Homo sapiens: one gene and its partners. The protein of the gene in region 4 purifies or fractionates together with the protein of the main gene of each other region. This does not show direct contact. Each region holds a gene or a part of one and is shown on either strand. Other genes may lie near its edges.

Region 1 (5,202 bases), on a different chromosome or scaffold from region 4:
ACAACTATCTGCCTTTCTCACAAGCATATGAGCACAGTGCATATGAGCATGTTAAGGCTTTAAGTCTTAGAGTAAAGAAATCTTTTGTTTTCTTTAAGACACTATTTCCTAAACCCATTTAATCACCTAAACCTATTTTGGCAGTATGTGTATTCAAATAAAACTGAAGTTCTACAGAACACAGGTGAGAAAATGCTGTACTAGAGGAAAAGTAGGTGTCTGGGATATGACATGAAGAATATAGGTTCTTTATGTGTCATAGTATGGGACAGAATGCACTACTGACTTTGGTGTCATTAGATCGAGCTTTGTGGCTGTGTAAGCTTAGACACACTTAACCTGCCTGATTCTCAGTTTACCCATCTAGAAATTGGGATCATATGCTCCTTTTACAAAAGTTAGAGTAAAGTGCCATATAGTGTCTGCCACATATCCATGGCTCTGGGTGTCATTGATATATACAAAGTTATATACATACAAAAATATAATAAATGTTCATTGTCCTGAGAGAAAGAAAAACCCAGGTCTTCAGCCACTATTAATTACACAATATCAAAACAACAGGTTAATTCAAAAAGTCCCAAACAATTTTCTGAAGAGATAATATCTACTTCAAAAATTGAGAAGCATTGATAACTAAGGCCAGCTTCCACCATAACGTCATTTTTTAAAAACTTGTTAAATTATCTTTTGTGTGTTACAAGTGCAGTAGCCTTCCTGAAACGTGTGTAGGGAAGTTTCACTATTTTAAGCAAAATTGCCGAAAGTTCACTTTAGCAATCTGTGTTTTCCAGGGAGAAAAATTATATCCTTCCAAATGATGAAGGAACCATCATCCAATTTGGATTTTGGTGATAGCAAAACACAATGGCTTTTCTAGAAGTCACAAAATATAAATGACTCCTGGGTAACATTTTACAGTATTTTCATTGCAAAGGGTAGTAAACTGAAAAATTAAATCAAATTCAACAATATGACCTCAATATAGTGTTACTGATATTGAAAAATAACGTTAAACGAAAAAACAAAATCCAAAATAACTTTCTTCTACTTACTAGAGTGTAACAGATAAAAATGAGGCTTTAAAAAGTGTCTAAAAAACAATCTGATCTAATGTGCTGGATGCCTTTTTTTCTCTTCATCTCCAGTTAGAATCATTCATTTTTACTAATTTCCCATTTTAACTTTCAGATACTCAAGAATATAATTTTTAGCCAAGCAAAATCTCTGTTTTAAAGAATTCCTAGGCCGGGTGTGGTGGCTCATGCCTGTAATCCCAGCACTTTGGGAGGCCGAGGTGGGTGGATCACCTGAGGTCAGGAGTTCAAGAACAGCCTTGCCAACATGGTGAAACCCTGTCTCTACTAAAAATACAACAAACAAACAAACAAAAAAACCCCAAAAAAACAGTGCCAGGCATGGTGGCGCACCCCTGTAATCCCAGCTACTCAGGAGGCTGAGGCCCGAGACTCGTTTGAATCCAGGAGGTAGAGGTTGCAATGAGCTGAGATCACACCACTGCACTCCAGCCTGGGTGACAGAATGAGACCCCGTATTAAAAAAAAAAAAAAAAATTACTCTTATCCTTTCTTCTCAGGATGGAAGGCATGAGGATACTGGCTAAGCTTCTTCATTAAAGTTAACAATCTTAAAATAGAAGCAGCTCTGCAATCTCATAGTAATCTTTTTGGTCTTTGCAGTTTATCCACTTAAAAAGTGGAAGAGACAAACACAAGGCAATTCTTTTTTTTTTTTTTGAGATGGAGTTTCGCTCTTGCTGCCCAAGCTAGAGTGCAATGGCACAATCTCGGCTCACTGCAACCTCCGCCTCCTGGGTTCAAGTGATTCTCCTGCCTCAGCTTCCCGAGTGGCTGGGATCACAGGCATGTGCCACCACGCCCAGCTAATTTTGTATTCTTAGTAGACACAAGATTTCTCCATGTTGGTCAGGCTGGTCTTGAACTCCCAACCTCAGGTGATCCACCCACCTCGGCCTACCAAAGTGCTGGGATTACAGGTGTGAACCACCGTGCCCAGCCACAAGGCAATTCTTAAAAGGGTGTGATTACTGCAGAATATTCTGGAAGGATGGATGATTTCCCAGCCTTTGCTCATGTTATTCCCTTTACTGGATCTTCGCACCAAGCCCAGCTGTTGCTGCCATGTATGTTTTGCAAATGGAGTGCTCAGCTGGCTCGTTTCCCTTCAGCATGTGGCCAGCGCGTGGTCCACAGGCCTGATAGATCTTTTCTAGCCACACTTGAGCTCTGCCTGCCCCCACAGCTTCCCTCATTTTGCTACTGTATAATTAACATTTCTCCCCTTGAGAAGATGTATGTCCAGTTCCTACAAAGACTTCACAGAGGTGGCCCCACACTCAATGAGCTGACTCTAACTTAACCAGGTTAACTTGGCACTCACATTCCCACACTCAATGAGCTGATTCTCACTTAACCAGGTTAACGTGGCACTCTGACATTATCAAGTCCATTGTATGTATGACATCAGTCTTCTTACTGGAGAAGAGCACTTTGAGCTGGTCTCTGTGATCTCATGACTCCTCACAACTCTGCCGTGAGCATATCACTCCCACTTTATGGGTGAGAAATCTGAGGCTCACGGAGGTTATGCAACTTACCCAAAGGCGCTACTAGGAATGGAGAAGCAAGGATTCAAATCAGGCTGCCTGTTGGCTAAAACTATGTTCTTTTCAGGACGTCATTTAATTCCACATTACGGCTTCAAAATAAAACACTCCCTACTTACCCACTTGAGGTTATTTTAAAGAGACATAGAGTAGAATCCATCCTCTTTTATGGTTTTTTTTTTTTTTTTTTGAATGTCAAACTTAGATTTAGATCTCCTGAGCTTTTTTCCTTAACTTTGCTTTTTATCCTTACTGGCTTCCCAGTGTTTAGAAGATGAAAGTAAAGAATTATTAAACATAGGAAGGAGCCACTTCCTAAGGCTATTCCAAAGATAGCAAAATAAATCTCACACTCAAAAAGCAGAGAGAGAGATAAAGGTGGCAGGGGGTGGTGGTGGGGGAAGAACTGAAGTAATAAACTGAAGAACAGTAAAACAATCAGTGCAAACTATTCCTGTGTCACTCCTCACAAGATAGTCTTTGCAATCTTCTCAATGCAAAGATGACAACCTACACGAAAGACGCCAGGGGAGCAGCTTTAATGTACTGCATTTGTAAGACACCTGGCTATGAGTTTGACTCTTGATCTTTCCAACAATTTAGACTCACAACACAAAGAGAAGCCATCAAAGAGTAGAGTGTAAAAAACTACAGGCACTATGGCAAACACTTTGGGGGAAGGAATTTTTTATTTTCAACACAAAACAATTACTTTCGTCAATGATAATGGAGAAGGAACTTTCATGAATAACTCCAAATAGTGGACACCCTGGCTGTCATTTATTTTTGGTTCTAGAATATCTTCTTAGAGTTTATGACTTTCATAATTAAGTCTAGGTAAGGCTAATAAGACTAACTTCAGTTTCTGCAATTGGAAGTCTCACTCCTTGAGAAAAGGAGAAAAAGAAAGGTAATCGGGAAGCCTGGTGAGGCTGGACCTGAAGGATGCACAGGCTGGGGACAAGGTAAGAGTAACCCTGACTCTCTTCTCTTTAATTCCTGAGGGAGGATGTCGTTACCATGTTGGAACTTGGAAGTGACAATTTTGAATCCTCTGAGTTGCTCAGCATTCCAAATACCCACTGCCAATTGCTTTTCAAATGCAGTGAATGACATGAAAAAAATTGGATACTAGAACTATAAACCAGTGTCACTTTCCAGGAGAAAGGGTGGCCCATATATTACAACTAAAAACTAGAACAGCATAAATACCCCAATGTGGAAACATGGCAAACAAACAGTGGTGTCTTGATGCAATTGTGAGGAAGGGACTATATGGAGCAAAGATGAATTAAAAAAAAAAAACAACAGAATTTAAAATCCTGCGCCCAGATGTAAAACTATACTTGTATAATCTATGAGGAAGGGGCTACAGTTTATTAATAGTGCCTGGGGGTTCAGTGGCTTTTCAGCTGTTATTTTATGTTGTCGTTGAGATTGAGTGTTTCTGGTTGGATTTTAAAATTGAGATGACCGTACTCGCTCTGGCAGCACCTATACTAAAACTGGAATGATTAGCATGGCCCCTGCATGAGAATGACATGTAAATTCATGAAGCATTCCATTTTTTTTTTTTTCAACATTTTTACAGACACTCGGGACTACTGGGAGTGGGGAGGAACAAGGGGTGAAAAACAAACTATTGGGTACTATGCTCACTACCTGGGTGACGAGAGCAATCGTATCCCAAACCCCGGCATCACATAACCATGTAGCAAACCTGCACATGTACCCCCAAATATAAAATAAAAGTTGAAATTATAAAAATAAAATAAAAGAAAAATAAAATTGAGATAACCGAAGAGATCATTTAAAAAACACAAACCCATTGTAAGTGCTTGCAGGCTTTGCTCCTACCTGTATCCATCTCATCCACATTGCTGAGGAAGTCCTCCGGAGTTGTGGGGACACTGTAGCACCCTAACCCCAGGCCACTGTCAGTGCTCTGCTCCCTCGAATGATATGGCCCTCTGCAAAGCAAAAGATGAAGAAACTTCAATATGAGCCCACTAAATAAATCTCAAAATTAAAACACAGTCACAAAAGCTCTAAACTAGTGCAGTTGTGCCATGCTGCCCAACTTTCCAGGTTAGGGAGGAAGGAAAGTTTTAATTTTGAAATACATACCCTCATGAAAATGAAAATAATCATGTGTGGCCATTCACAGTAAATTGACATTGATTTCCTTTTCACCTCAAAATAACCATTTGAACATTCTTCAACATACAGAGTATGACACCATTTATGTAAAACTTTAAAAAAAAAAAACAAAAACTATGTTGAATATTGCTTATGGATACATACACTAACGGGCAGTAAGGGGTATAAAAGTCTGTGTGATGGACACACGCCAGTTTCTGAATAGTGGCTACCACTGGGGACAGAAGGGAAAAGAAACGAGATTTCAGTGGTGGGGGGATGGCTTCAAATATTAATTGTAATATTTTATTTGTTAAAAAGTAAGATTAAATAAAACTATGGCAAATCTGGGTAGTGGGTACATGGGTAATTCATGTTATTCTTTGTACTTCTCTGTGTTTCAAATACTTTAAAAT
Region 2 (5,202 bases), on a different chromosome or scaffold from region 4:
CCTAGGCAACATGGCGAAACCCTGTCTCTACTGAAAATACAAAAATTAGCCAGGCGTGGTGGCGCGTGCCTGTGTTCCCAGCTACTCAGGAGGCTGAGATGGGATAGCTTGAACCCGGGAGGCAGAAGCTGCAGTGAGCCGAGATTGTGCCACTGCACTCTAGCCTAGGTGACAGAGCAAGGCCCTGTCTCATAAATAAATAAATAAATAAATAAATAAATAAATAAAGTAAAAGAACTACAAAGTTAGATAGGTGAAGTTCTTTAATGCTTTAGGGGCTTGGGTAATTAAACATAAAAACTAAAAGGCCAGCAAAAAAACAAACAAACAAAACCAAAAAACAAACAAAAAAAACCCTTCAGATAATTACACAGTAGCCATACTCATTCCTTGCCTTTTAAAAGATCTCTTGGCAAGTTTTTGCTTAATATGGGGTTTGGCTGGGCGCGGTTGCTCACACCTATAATCCCAGCAATTTGGGAGGCTGAGATGGGCAGATCGCTTGAGCTCAGGAGTTCGAGACCAGCCTGAACAACATGGCGAAAGCCTGTCTCTACAAAAAAAATACAAAAATTAGCCAGGTGTGGTGGCACATGCCTGTAACCCCAGCTACTCAGGGGGCTGAAGTGGGTGGATTGCTTGAGCCTGGGAGGCAGAGGTTGTAGTGAGCCGAGATCGGTCCACTGCATCCAGCCTGGGTGACAAAACTAGACTCTGTCTCAAAAAATACAAATATAAAAGAGCCAAAACAAAAAATGGGGTTTGTACTTATACATTATATTTTTCCTTTTATGAGGTCGCCTGGTCACAGCATGAACTGAAGAATGTAACATCGGGTGCTCCCATCATGCTTTCTGTCCTGATAATGTTTGCTGTACATCTCTGCTTAGGCACTCACATCTCATAATTATTCCAAAATATAATGTTTTGCTTAAAAAAAATGCTCATTTCACGTAAAAAAATCCCCCAAATATGCTGCAAATGTTACTGTCCATCTGTGCATATTTGCAGGTGTCAAACAACTGGTGAGTGCTGACAATGCATTATTATGTACCTAGATGATTCAGGGATAATTTATTAGTAATATTTCCCCAATTTATGATTATCTAAAGTATGCACTTACAAATGTGCAATACCATTTCAGCCATTAATGGCAAAGTTAGCCAAATAAATGATCATTTATCAAAACCCAGAAACCGACACAGGCACAATCTACTTAACATTTCAAAATTAAGTTACCACTAATAGAAGCATTACAATTTTTCCACTGGATTATAATGGGAAATCATGGTTTATGTAAGTTTTGGCCTATGAAAAAAACATTTTATAATCACTTATAAAACACATTTTGTTTTTTGTTTTTTAGGGACAGGATAGGGTCTTGTTCTGTTGCTCTGGCTGGAGTGCAGTGGCGCAATCACAGCTCGCTGCAACTTCTAACTCCTGGGACCCAATGATCTTCCTGCCTCAGCCTCTTGAGTAGCTAGGACTATAGATGTGCGCTACCACACCTTGCTAATTTTTTTTATTTCACATGTCTTCCTGAAAAAGCCTACTGCTACAGTTAATTTTATGGTACTACATTAAATCATCTTATAAGTTTATAAAACTTCTTTATCAAGGCTTTTGAGAAAAGATCCTATGGCTCACAAGTACTACAGAAGTACAAGCAATGGGGCAATCGGAGCAAGTACAGAAACATTTGTTGTGTACTTAAAAAGCCTTTTCACTATTAAGGCCTACTAATCATCATGATGCCAGTTTTGTTATAAACAGGGAAATACAGGTGATACTGTGATACTGGATACATTATTAGGAATAAATCCAGAAGTGATTTCTGCATATTATAGACACACTCCCTTGAGCTATCTTCACAATCTTATCACACTTAAAATTCTAGGAATTTTAATTTTGTGAAATTCAGCAATTTTAGTTGATAAAACTTAAATGCAAACTCTTAGGACTTGTCATTTGTCATAACTTTATGTAAATACACCTCTTTCTTTTAATAAACACATACTTCAAAATTTTTAACATTTTAATCTATTTAAAATTTATATATTTTTTGGTGCTCAGTATGAGGGAAAGAATCTAGAGTGACTTTCTCCAAATGATCAGGCAACATTATTAATTGGAACAGACAGCCTTCTCTCCACTAATTTAAAATAATACCTTTATCATCTACTAAATTCTTTTAAGATGAATTCTTGCTCTGTTGCCTAGGCTAGTGTGCAGGGCCGCAATCACAGCTTGCTGCCACCTTAACCTCCTGGGCTCAAGCAATCCTCTAGCTTCAGCCTCTCAAGCTGATAGGCGCACACATCACGCCCAACTAATTTTTAATTTTTTTAGAGACAGGGTCCTGGTATGTTGCCCAGGCTAGTCTCAAATCCCTGGCTTCCATCTTGAACTCGCAAAATGTTAGGGTTTCAGGCATGAACCACTGCACCCAGGATAAATTCTTATTTATACTCGGATCTGTTTCTGCCTGCCTATTGCTTTCTATTCATCTCTTTCTTTTTTCCTGCATTGCTACATTTTATTATCATGTCAGTAAACCCATTACTTTTATTTTTCAAATATGTCCAGCCACACTTCCATGTTTATTTTAAAGATAAACTGTTTTACTAAGTTCTCCTACTATTCTATTTGCATTGATTTTTAATTAATTTGCAATAAATTTGTTAACTATGAGGAGTAAAGTCTTCCCAACATCTTTTTTTTTTGGGGGGGGACAGGGTCTTGGTTCTGTCGCCCAGGCTGGAGTGAGGTAGTGCAGTTAGGGCTCACTGCAGCCTCGGCCTCCTGGGCTCAAGTGATCCTCCTGTCTCAGCCTCTTGAGTAGCTAGGACCACAGGTGTCCACCATCATACTCTGCTTATTTTTAAAATTTTTTGGTAGAGATGAAGTTTCACTACGTTGCTCAGGCTGGTCTCAAACTCGTGGGCTCAAGTGATCATCCTGGCTTTGCCTCCCTAAGTGCTGGTACTGTTCTTGTTCTTCTATCTAGCAATAAGATATGTTTTTTCCATTACATGCAACTTTTATGTCCCTGTCTTACATTATTTATCATAGAAGTTGGTCATATTTCTTAGTATGACCAACTTATTTCTTATTATATATTTTGTATACAATTTCTATTTTGCATTACTGTAATCATCTTTTCTCCTCATTACATAATCAATGGATTAGGCTTTAGGACTATTAAATTTTTTTTTTTTTTAAGATGGAGTCTCGCTCTGTCGCCCAAGCTGGAGTGCAGTAGCGTGATCTCGGCTCACTGCAACCTCTGCCTCCCGGGTTCTCCCACCTCAGCCTCCTGAGTAGCTGGGATTACAGGTGCACGCCACCATGCCCGGCTAATTTTTGTATTTTTAGTAGAGATGGGGTTTCACCATGTTGGTTGGCCAGGCTGGTCTCGAACCCCTGACCTCAGGCGATCCGCCTGCCTTGGCCTCCCAAAGTGCTGGGATTACAGGCATGAGCCATCGTGCCCGGCCAGAACTATTGACTTTTGTATATTTAATTTACATTTTGCCTGTGCCTAATTTAAGTTCCTTATTAGTTCTCATTCTTCATGAATAATGCTAATTTCAATATTTATGCTTCTTTTTCATGTGTTCCTGATTTAACTAAAAATTCCAGAATAGGCCGGGCACTGTGGCTCATGCCTATAATCCCAGCACTTTGGGAGGCCAAGGTGGGTGGATCACTTGAGCCCAGGAGTTCCAGACCAGCCTTGGCAACATGGCGAAACCCCGTCCCTACAAAACTAGCTGGTGGTGCTTGCTTGTGATCTCAGCTAATTGGGAGGATGGCCTGAGCTCAGGAGGTAGAGGCTGCAGTGAGCCATGATCACACCACTGCATTCCAGTCTGGGAGACAGAGCAGGACCCTATCTCAAAAAACAAACAAACAATCTTTAGAATGTTTAAAAATTAAGCAAGTAGGCTGGACGCAGTGGCTCACATCTACAATCCCAGCACTTTGGGAGGCCAAGGCAGGTGGATCACTTGAGGTCAGGAGTTTGAGACCAGCCTGGCCAACATCACGAAACCACATCTCTACCAAAAATACAAAAAAATGAGCTGGGCGTGGTGGCACGTGCCTGTAATCCCAGCTATTTGGGAGGGTGAGGCAGGAGAATCGCTTGAACCTGGGAGGTGGAGGTTGCAGTGAGCCGAGATTGTGCCACTGCACTCCAGTCTGGGTGACAGAGCAAGACTCCATCTTAAAAGAAAAAAAAAAAGAAAAAAATTAAGCTAATCAATATGAGTAACAGTAAGAACTATTTCAAAATATCTTAAGTGAAATACATAAGATTATGTTTAGCATTGAATTTTTACCCTTAATAGCTTTTTAAAATACTGTCTTGTGACTATAGGTCTTTCTGAAATGACTCAACATTGTTTTACTTAAAAACAAAACAAAACAAAAACCATTCATATAAAGCAATGAGCCAAAAATACCCATTTCTAAAGTGCATAAAAATAGATAAGGAAAAGCCGAGCATGGTGGCACAAGGCTGTAGCCCCAGCTACTGGGGAAGCTAAAGTGGGAGGCTTGTTTGGGGCCAGGTGTCCAAGGCTGCAGTGCACTATGATCACATCTGTAAATAGCCACTGCATTTCAGTTTGGGCAGCATAGTGAGACCTATCTTTAAAAAAAAAAAAAAAGCCAGGCCCAATGGCTCACGCCTGTAATCCCAACATCCCAACACTTTGGGGAGGCCAAGGCAAATGGATCGCTTGAGCCCAGGAGTTCGAGACCAGCCTGGGCAATACAGGGAGACCTCATCTCTAATAAGTAAATAAAAGAAAGAAAAAGATTAAGAAAAAAGGAAGAAACAAAGATAAGAATAAAAGGTATGGATAACCATTTAAAATTATGAGACTGGCTGGTTGAAGAGCAGAATCTTAAGAAATAAAACAATCCTTTAAGAAGCTTATTAAAATATAAATCCTCAGGCTCCAGGGATTCTGATGTATAAGTCTCAGGATTTAAATTTTTAAGAAGCACCCCAGATGATTCAGTTGTGGGTAGCCTACACTGAGAACCACTACTCTCCATCCTGTGAGGATGTTAGGGAAAATGTTAACAGCATAATACAGTTTTTTTCAGATGATATTTCCAATTCATCTTGGATAGCTCAACTTTAATGGTGAGTATGAGCCTAATTTGATATATTTAAGTGTTACATAC
Region 3 (3,902 bases), on a different chromosome or scaffold from region 4:
TAGAAAACAATGAAGTTGATTAATCAATCTGTCCTGAATAATCAAGAGGCTTTAATATTATCTGTGATAAATCTAAATGGTAGGAACTTTTTTCATTAAAGCAAGACTTAATTTTACCTAACCAAAAGAGTGTACATTCTAATTGACTTTGGGAGCAGTGTCTCTTGGAAAAGACGTTAATTACCACTCTGCACTGTCCTTTGTGATTACCTATCATTTGCCAAAACTTCCAACCAAGTTCAAATATAAAATGAAACAATTGCCACCTTAAAACCCTTTTCTCTTTCAGGGCCATTGCACCATCATGGGTTTTTTAAAAAGTCTTCTCCACTTACCTTTGATTGTGGACTTCTGCAAGACTCTGTGGCTTTCATTTATTCCTATGCTCACATGAGACTTAGTTCTATCTGTTGGTTTCACTTATCCCTTGTTCTGATGCCCAAATCTATATCCCTAGGTCTAATGCTTCACCCAGGCTGTAAGCCTTCATTCTCTCCTTTTTTTGAGGTCCCAGACTCCAAACCTTATCATCCTGTCTTATACTTACTTCTTAACCACCACACTCTGATTATTCTCCTTAGTGGTGCCTCTCAAATTTCTCTCCCACCTGATTTCTGTGGTGACCACTCAAGTCTGGGTCCTGGCCATCTGGCAGGAATGCCTGACATTTGTCATCTTCCTCATCCAGCTGGACTCCTGCACTGGTCTCCTGACTGTTGTTCCTGCCTCTACTCCTTGCCGGCTTCAGCTTATTCATCACACTGAAGCCACAGCAGTGTTTTCAAAACGTAAATCACACCATGACAAACCCTTCCTCAAAACCAAAGAAGAAACGATCCCAACCTCCTTTCCTGGGCTTATCATGCCCTGCATGACTGGCCAACCCCAAGTTCTTTGACCAGTCTTCTATCTCTCTGTGGCTCTTGCACTCTGCCCTGGACCATTGTAGTAGATTGCCAACTGGTCTTTTCGTCCAAATGTTTTTTCTTAATTCATTTTTTTTTTTTTTTGGTCAATTAGATCAAGCTGGTACTTCTCAGTCTATTAAAGAATAGACCTAATATTTTGTACCTTTATTTACTACTCACTATACCAATGCTCAACTTTAGTAATGTCCCTTTCTTCACCGTCCTATTCCTTCCATTCGTTTCTGCCTCCTCCCCCAACATACATCTTACTGTCATAATACTGTGTACTTCTTCACCTCCATGCCTCTTTCCTCATTGTGTTTTTCCACCTGAAGCACCATTTCCATTCGTTTTAGCACAAAGAAAATAGACTTTGACTTTCCCTTTCCCTGAGTATAGCTTTAAAACCTACCTTGGTTTCTGTCTTTAAATTCTTACATATGAATTGTCTCTGTTTTATGCTAATAAATTCTTTTGCAGTGAACTCTTATTTGCCAGTTGCTTCTAGCGTACTTGTCAATTCTCCAGGTATTTTAAGGCCCTCGAGAGTGGAATAGTGTCTCATGCTTGTCTTCTGGTAAACATACTATTTAATGTAAGACTAGGCAGACAGTAACTGTTGATTACTTGATTGAAAACTTGATGAATGTTACTTAACATTTTTTTCAAGCCTGTGTTTTTGGAATATTTAAGCCTTCTGTTTTTTTTTTTTTTTTCTCTTCTAGAAAGTCATTTTTTAAACAACACTCAACTTTGTGAACCCCTGAAGATTTTTTGACCGTTCCAAGTCTTAATGCCACACCACTATTCCAGCGAATTTATGCTACAACTGGTAACAATGACCAGAAGCCTGAAGAATTAAAATGCCAACACCAAACCTTTCCTTACCAGCTCTGGTCTATATTGCTCCCATGCATTTAATATATTATTTTGTTTTATAACCACTTCTAAATATTCTCAGTTCTTTCTTTTTGTTGTTGTTAATTAAGGGGTTTTGGTTTTGTTTTCTGTTTACTTTGTGTGCAACTACCTGCTTTTAATGACTCACTTTGATCAAATGACAGTGAACAAAGCCAGCCCAAGCTGGTAAGGTGCTGTTCACTTGAACAGGTGCTGTTGCGCAGAAAGGAAACTCTGTGACTAATTTAGATAGTGGCTTTCCTTCTTCTGGATTCTTTTCATTGAATTCTCACAGTAAATATTTACGGAGTTTTCAAATTGCAGCAAATATACTGTATGAGAAAATATTAATACAGATTAAAAGCCTTTCTTACATCTTGAAAATTTTCTAATATTTGAGAATTTCACAGGGATGTTTTTTATATTGGACCCTTTTGACTTTCCAGTCCTGTGACTTTCTACTTTTAGTAGAGAGTCAGAATCTCTGGACTGGAGAATAATGAAGAAGTTCACTGACTGTGCACTGTGCTTAGAGACCCTGCCGCACCACAGTGCCAATGCTTGTCAGACACATGCCCTTCGGCAGCATTCCAGAACAGGAGGGAAGAGAAAGAGAAAACTTTCTTCCCTTCTACTAAAAGATTCAGGCAGCTTAAAACCTTAGTGCTTTCTTTCTTAACATACCCACATTTCAATTCTTTCCATTATTTGAACACTTGGGTAGAACTCTTGCTTTGTATTAAACCTCTTTGTCTACACATGTAAAACTTACCTTTTGTTATTGAGCAGGCCTATCTCTTTCAGATAGTTTTATGATTCACACAGGTTTGAGGATGCTGGGGAGAGGGGGAGGGGGCTGTGGTGGTGTTCTGTTGGTTACAAGAAAGTTATACCATTTAAAGCTGGCACCAGAGACCCGATAGGGACTTATTAACTATATTGAACATTTTTTCCTTTGCCTTTGACCCTATGTATAGTTACGATGCCAGATTAGATTTATAGCAGCCTCAAGTTGTATTAAATGATATTTTGCTTCCTGTAATACTATTATAAAATAAAGTTTGTTTATTCTCTAAACTTGTCACTTCTCTTTTTCTAAAGGGTTAAAAAAACAAACTTGAGTGATATTTTTCATCAGAAGTCTTAGTATTTTGTGAAAAGTAGCATTTCAAAATCTGTTTTCAGCTCTTCTGTAATTTGATGATGCTGCCAACATCACTATTTGAAACGGTGAAAGCGACGTTGAAAGTTTGTAAATCTAATGTTGAGAGTGCCAGATTCCTTCTGCCTGGTTACATAATCCATTCCAGCTTTTACGAATTCTCCGAGGGATATTTTTGCTTGTTTTCTTTGTGCATTTTTCATTTTGTTTTCAGGAAATATTTTAGCTGTACCATCTGAATCTTGCTCCTCTGCTTCATGTCCTTCTTTACTTTGTGTCCACTGGCCCTCTGTATATCAGGCAAACTAGGCCACTGAGGGGCTGCATCCCAGTCTGATTGGGATGCTTTCTTGTGAAACTTTTGTTGGGGCACACCAGGTTATGGTGTTATTATAGAGCAAATAACCAACAGGGTACATTTCTTGTAAAGTGTTATATAGAATTTTTTTCTCTAGTCATTTAAAGTAAGTACATTAAATACAATTTGCATAACTGTCGTCTTTGAGATCTGTTTCCACTAAATTATCTCTCGCCTTGTGAAAGGCCTTTCTCACTTTCTCTATAATTATTACAAAAACAACAACTCCCTGGAGAATCCGATTCAGCAAGCCAAGCCTTAGAAATATTGTGGAACCAAATGTGATTTTGCAAATGTATGCCTCATCAGAAAGTTTGTATAACACTCACATTGAAATCATAGGTTGCGCTTCCCTGGGTGTTTTGAAGACCATATTTGCAGTGACAGGAAGAAAGTTTGTCTTCACAGGTCCCATGGACTAAGAAAGGTGGTGTGCGGGGATTAGGGCTCGGTTTTATTTAGCTGAGACAGCAAGAACAGGGTTTAGGGTCCTGGGGGCATTGAGAGAATCTATGGGAATTAATACCCACAGAGCCACTTGAAACAATGTTTATACTTATTCCCACCTGTAGCT
Region 4 (5,202 bases):
CTCAGTGACAATAAAGGGACCTAATTTGAGAATGATCCAAAGAATACCGATAAAATATATTAAACTATTCTTTTGTCATTATTAACTATTAAAGTTCACACTAAATGACTAACCACACAAATGGAAAAAATTCCAAAGTTTATAAACCTCGTAGTGCTTTTTAAATTTATGGTACTATGAATCTCAAACAAATAATTGTTGACCACTTGTAAGAAAACCAGTAAGCTAGTGACAGTAGGGAATCTAAAGATTCTAACCCTATCCTCCTATTAGTTGGGAAGGCAAGGTATAAACAACAACAACAAAGTAAGAGTTAAGACCTAATCTTAACTCTTTAACCTAAGAGTTAAGTAACAATAAAGGCAACAATACAAGAAATATTACAAAGCAACCATGTAATTAACTACCAAGAGAAATATAGTCAACCAATGTTCCAAATCAATCCCAGGAATATCCAAGACAAAAGACAAACTTAACATTTCTTGTTAAGTGTGTGTAGATATAGATATATAGATACATCTCACACAACACTTTGAGAATAAGAGGAAAGGTTTTTTAAGTTCAATTTTGTATTACATACATTTGATTTACTTATAACTGGCTTCATAAAAATGAAGTTCACTACAAACATATCTCATCAGAAATTCATTCTTTATTCATAAATGTTTACTAAAGCAATCACTATGAAATAAGAACATGCAGTAAAGTTTAAAAATTTATCCTTCTTTTTTTCCTGATTTTTGATACAGGGTCTTGCTATGTTGCCCAGGATGCCCTCCAACTCCTGGGCTAAAGGGATTCTCCTGCCTTAACCTCCTGAGTAGTTGAGGCATGCACCACACAGCCCAGCTCAAAAATTTGTAATTCTTAAACTTCATATAATGGTAGGAATGATCTTCTGACTCTCAATCCAGTGTTCCTCCCATTACATCAGAAAATAGACAATTTTCTCAAAATGTATTTTAGTAGATCCACCCTTCCTTTATATTGTATTTCTGGGTTATTCTTGTGCAGTAGATGTTATCTAAGAAAAATTTAAATGCACTTCTTAAGAGTACAGAAGACCAGCATTGAGTTATTCCCATTTTTCAAGCCAGGTTTCTTATAAAATTCGTAACAAACGATACTTTGAATACTTTGTTAAAATCTTTAAAATCCACAAAATCAGATTCTGATTAACCTAGCTGGATATTTTTTAATTCCTGTGATTTGTTTCCATCTATAGACCAACAAACATTTATTAACACTGAAATTTAAAAGTTAGCCTGACAAGGATCAGCAAAAGATACCACAACTATTAGGTAAAAGATCACTGGAGAACAGGCTAGCATTACAGTGCTAATTTATCATGCCACAGATTACTTGCTGACTGCAGTGAGAAAAATATACCTCACCTTACTCCTCTCAACCAAGCAATCAAACTTAGTATCACAAATAATGGGACTGCACAGTGTACGTCTCCTAATGGGAGGCATATAAAATATATTAAATCACTTATTAGGTATTCTTGTCCAAAATGTTGAAATTAAAACTAATCGACCCTTTAAATCTAGTTTACACTTAACAACTGGTATGGGGGAATACAGGAACAAGCTAAACAATGCTATGACGGGGGGAGGGGGGTGGAATCTGACAAATCGAGAATATGAGTCACTTTATAAGACAACTGTCTTGATCTCTTAAAAAAAATCATTGTCATTTTTAAAGGGTGTAAGAGGTGAGACTGCTGTAGACTATAAGAGATCAAAAAGCCTTAACAACTAAATGCAATGAATAAACTTTGATGAAATCCTGATTTGGTGGGGATGGGTGTACAAACCACAAATGACAATTCAGTACGAATGAGATGTAAATATGGATATATATTAGAGTATATGAAAGAAGTATCGCACCTAAGAAAAGTAACAATAATGGTATTTTGGCTATGTAAGAAAATGTCCTTAACTTTAGGAGATGCATGTGACATATTGAGAGGTAAAATGTCATAATGTCCATAGCTTAGTTTCAAAGAGTTCAGCTGAAAATAATATACAAGTATATCTCATTTTATTGAGCTTCATTTTATTCTGCTTCATAGTGTTTTTTAAAAAAAGATATCTGGAAGTGTTTATTTCTCCTTTATTTTTGAAATACATAGTTCCAGGATCTAGAATTCTAGTTTGATAGTTTTCTTCTTTCAGTAGAGGTATACCTTGTTTTATTTCACTTTTCATTGTGCTTCACAGATAATAATGTGTTTTCTTACAAATTGACTCACTCTATTGCCCAGGATGAAGTGCAGCAGCACGATCTTGGCTTACTGCAGCCTCCATCTCTTGGGTTCAAGCAGTTCTCCTGCCTCAGCCTCCCAAGTATCTGGGACTACTGGCACCTCGTCCCACTAATTTTTGTATTTTTAGTAGAGACAGGGTTTCACCATGTTGGTCAGGCTGGTCTTAAACTCCTGACCTCAGGTGATCCGCCTGCCTTGGCCTCCCCAAGTGCTGGGATTACAGGCATGAGCCACTCTACCCAGCAGATGTCGGTATATTGATAGGGGTTGCCTTCAATCTGCAGATTGCTTTGAGTAGTGTATTAGGCCATTCTTGCATTGCTCTTAAGAAAAACCTCAGGCTTGGTAATTTATAAAGAAGAGAGGTTTAATTGGCTCACGGTTCAGCAAGCTGGACTGGAAGCATGGTGCTGGCACCTGCTTGGCCTCTGGTGAGGTCTCATGACATAAGGCAAAGTGGGAGCAAGGACCTCACTTGGCAAGAGCAGGAGCAAGTGAGAGAGTGGAGAGATGCCACACATTTTTAAACAACCAGATCTCACATGAACTTGCTCATCATCAAGGGGACGCTGCTAAGCCATTCATGAGGCACCCACCCCCATGATCCAGTCACCTCCCACCAGGCCCCACTTCCAACACTGGGGATTGCATTTCAACATGAGACTTGGAGGAGACAAATAAACAACCCATATCAGGTTGTATGGTCACTTTGACAAAACTGATTCTTCCAATCAACGAGTATGGGATGTTTTTCCGTTTGTCTGTGTCATCTAGAATTTCTTACATCAGGACTTTGTAGTTCTCCTTATAGAGATCTGTTACCTCCTTGGTTAAATACATTTCTAGGTGGATTTTTTCTTTTTTTGAAGATTGCTTTCTTGATTTAGTTTTCAGTTGGATCGTCATTGGTGTATAGAAATGCTCCTCATTTTTGTACACTGATTTTGTATTGACACTTTACTGGATTATTTGTCAAATTCAAGAGGTTTTTGGTGGCATCCTTAGGTTTTTCTAAATATGACAGAGATCATGTCATCAGGGAATAGGGTATTTTGACTTTTCCAACTTGGATGCATTTCCTAATTTAAGAAATACAGCCAGGACAGTGGCTCATGCCTGTAATCTCAACATTTTGGGAGGCCAAAGTGGGAGGACCATCTGAGGCAAAGAGTTTGCAACCAGCCTGAGCAACACATTGAGATGCTAACTCTAAAAATAGAAATAAAAATAAAAAAATTAGGCTAGCCTGAGCCAGGCTCAGATGTTCTTCTAGCATTTTTTTGGCAACAAATAATTTTTTTTTTTTTTTTTGAGATGGAGTCTCGCTCTGTCACCCAGACTGGAGTGCAGTGGCGCCATCTCTGCTCACCGCAAGCTCCACCTCCCGGGTTCACGCCATTCTCCTGCCTCAGCCTCCCGAGTAGCTGGGACTACAGGCACCCGCCACCATGCCCGGCTAGTGGTTTTTTTTGTTTGTTTGTTTGTTTTGTATTTTTAGTAAAGACGGGGTTTCATCCTGTTAGCCAGGATGGTCTTGATCTCCTGACCTCGTGATCTGCCCGCCTCGGCCTCCCAAAGTGCTGGGATTACAGGCGTGAGCCACCGTGCCCGGCCAACAAATAATTTTTAATTGATATATATATATATATATATATTGCTTTTTTAGAATGTCATTGCACACTTAACAGACTACAGTATATTGTAAACATAACTTTATACGCACTGTGAAACTAAAAAAAGAAAAACAAACGAAATACATTTTGTAAGGCTATAACTACCATAGACAGTGATCAGATTCTTCTGACAGATCTGAGCAAAGTAAATTGAAAACCTTCTGGAAAGGATTCATCATTCTAGATGCCATTAAGAACACTGATGATTCATGGGAGGAGGTCAAAATATCAACATTAACAGGAATTTGGAAGAAGCTGATTCCAGCCCTCATGGATGACTTTGAGGGGTTTAAGACTTCAGTGGAGGAAGTAACTGTAGATGTGACGGAAAGAGCAAGAGAACTACAATTAGAAGCAGAGCTAAAACTTGAACAGATGAAAAGTTGCTTCTTATGGATGAGGAAACAAAGTGGCCTTTTTTTTTTTTTAAGACAGGGTCTTGCTCTGTTGCCCAGGCTGGTCTGCACTGCCACAGCTCACTGCAGCCCTGACCTCCCCTCCCCGGCTCAAGCACTCTCCCTGCTTCAGCTTCCCAAATCACCACAACCGGCTAACCTCTATATTTTTTTAATGGGATTTTGCCATGTTGCCCACGCTGTTCTTGAATTCCTTGGCGCAAGCAATCCTCCTGCCTCAGCCTCCCAAACTGCTGGGATTATAAGCGTGACCCCATTACGCCTGGACAGAAAGTGGCTTCTTGAGATGGAATCTACTCCTAGTGAAGATGATGTGAATATTATTGAAGTAGCAACAAAGGACTTAGATTACAAAAACTTAGTTGATAAAGCAACGATAAGCAACTTAGATGATAGGTGATAAGCAATTAGTTGATGAAGGGTTTGAAAGGACTGACTCCAATTTTGAAAAATGTTCTATGGTGAGTAAAATGTTATCAAACAGTATCACATGCCAGAGTGAAATCTTTCCTGAAAGGAAGAGTCCATCGATGCGGCAAACTTCACTAATGTCTTACTTTAAGAAATTGCCTCAGCCATCCCAAACTTCAACAACCACCCCTTATCAACCATCCTTACTAGTCAGCAGCCATCAACATGGAGGCAAGACCCTCCACCAGCAAAAAGATTACAATTCCCTAAAGGCTCAAATTTCTTTAGAAATTTTTAGCAATAAATAATTTTTTAATTAAGGTATATACTTTTTTTAGACATAATGCCATTGCACACAATAGACTACAGTATATTGTAAACATAACTATATGCACCGTGAAACTAAAAAGTTTATGTGACTCACTTCTTT

The links. The genes of interacting proteins can lie anywhere in the genome.
Region 1: the proteins of MAP3K2 (region 4) and WWTR1 purify together in Homo sapiens (affinity purification with western blotting, with the first as the bait; one study listed by BioGRID). This does not show direct contact.
Region 2: the proteins of MAP3K2 (region 4) and LSM14A purify together in Homo sapiens (affinity purification with mass spectrometry; one large-scale study listed by BioGRID and IntAct). This does not show direct contact.
Region 3: the proteins of MAP3K2 (region 4) and EPB41L2 purify together in Homo sapiens (affinity purification with mass spectrometry; one large-scale study listed by BioGRID and IntAct). This does not show direct contact.

Annotation. Positions count from the first base shown.
Region 1 is NC_000003.12:149,521,509-149,526,710, forward strand, and holds part of WWTR1 (WW domain-containing transcription regulator protein 1), read right to left. Parts: intron 4,618-5,202; coding exon 4,505-4,617; intron 1-4,504. UniProt on the Homo sapiens protein: Transcriptional coactivator which acts as a downstream regulatory target in the Hippo signaling pathway that plays a pivotal role in organ size control and tumor suppression by restricting proliferation and promoting apoptosis.
Region 2 is NC_000019.10:34,209,319-34,214,520, reverse strand, and holds part of LSM14A (protein LSM14 homolog A), read right to left. Parts: intron 1-5,202. UniProt on the Homo sapiens protein: Essential for formation of P-bodies, cytoplasmic structures that provide storage sites for translationally inactive mRNAs and protect them from degradation. Acts as a repressor of mRNA translation. May play a role in mitotic spindle assembly.
Region 3 is NC_000006.12:130,838,330-130,842,231, reverse strand, and holds the end of EPB41L2 (band 4.1-like protein 2), read left to right. Parts: intron 1-1,633; 3' UTR 1,634-2,885; downstream 2,886-3,902. UniProt on the Homo sapiens protein: Required for dynein-dynactin complex and NUMA1 recruitment at the mitotic cell cortex during anaphase.
Region 4 is NC_000002.12:127,380,309-127,385,510, forward strand, and holds part of MAP3K2 (mitogen-activated protein kinase kinase kinase 2), read right to left. Parts: exon of another isoform or gene 5,197-5,202; intron 1-5,196. UniProt on the Homo sapiens protein: Component of a protein kinase signal transduction cascade. Regulates the JNK and ERK5 pathways by phosphorylating and activating MAP2K5 and MAP2K7. Plays a role in caveolae kiss-and-run dynamics.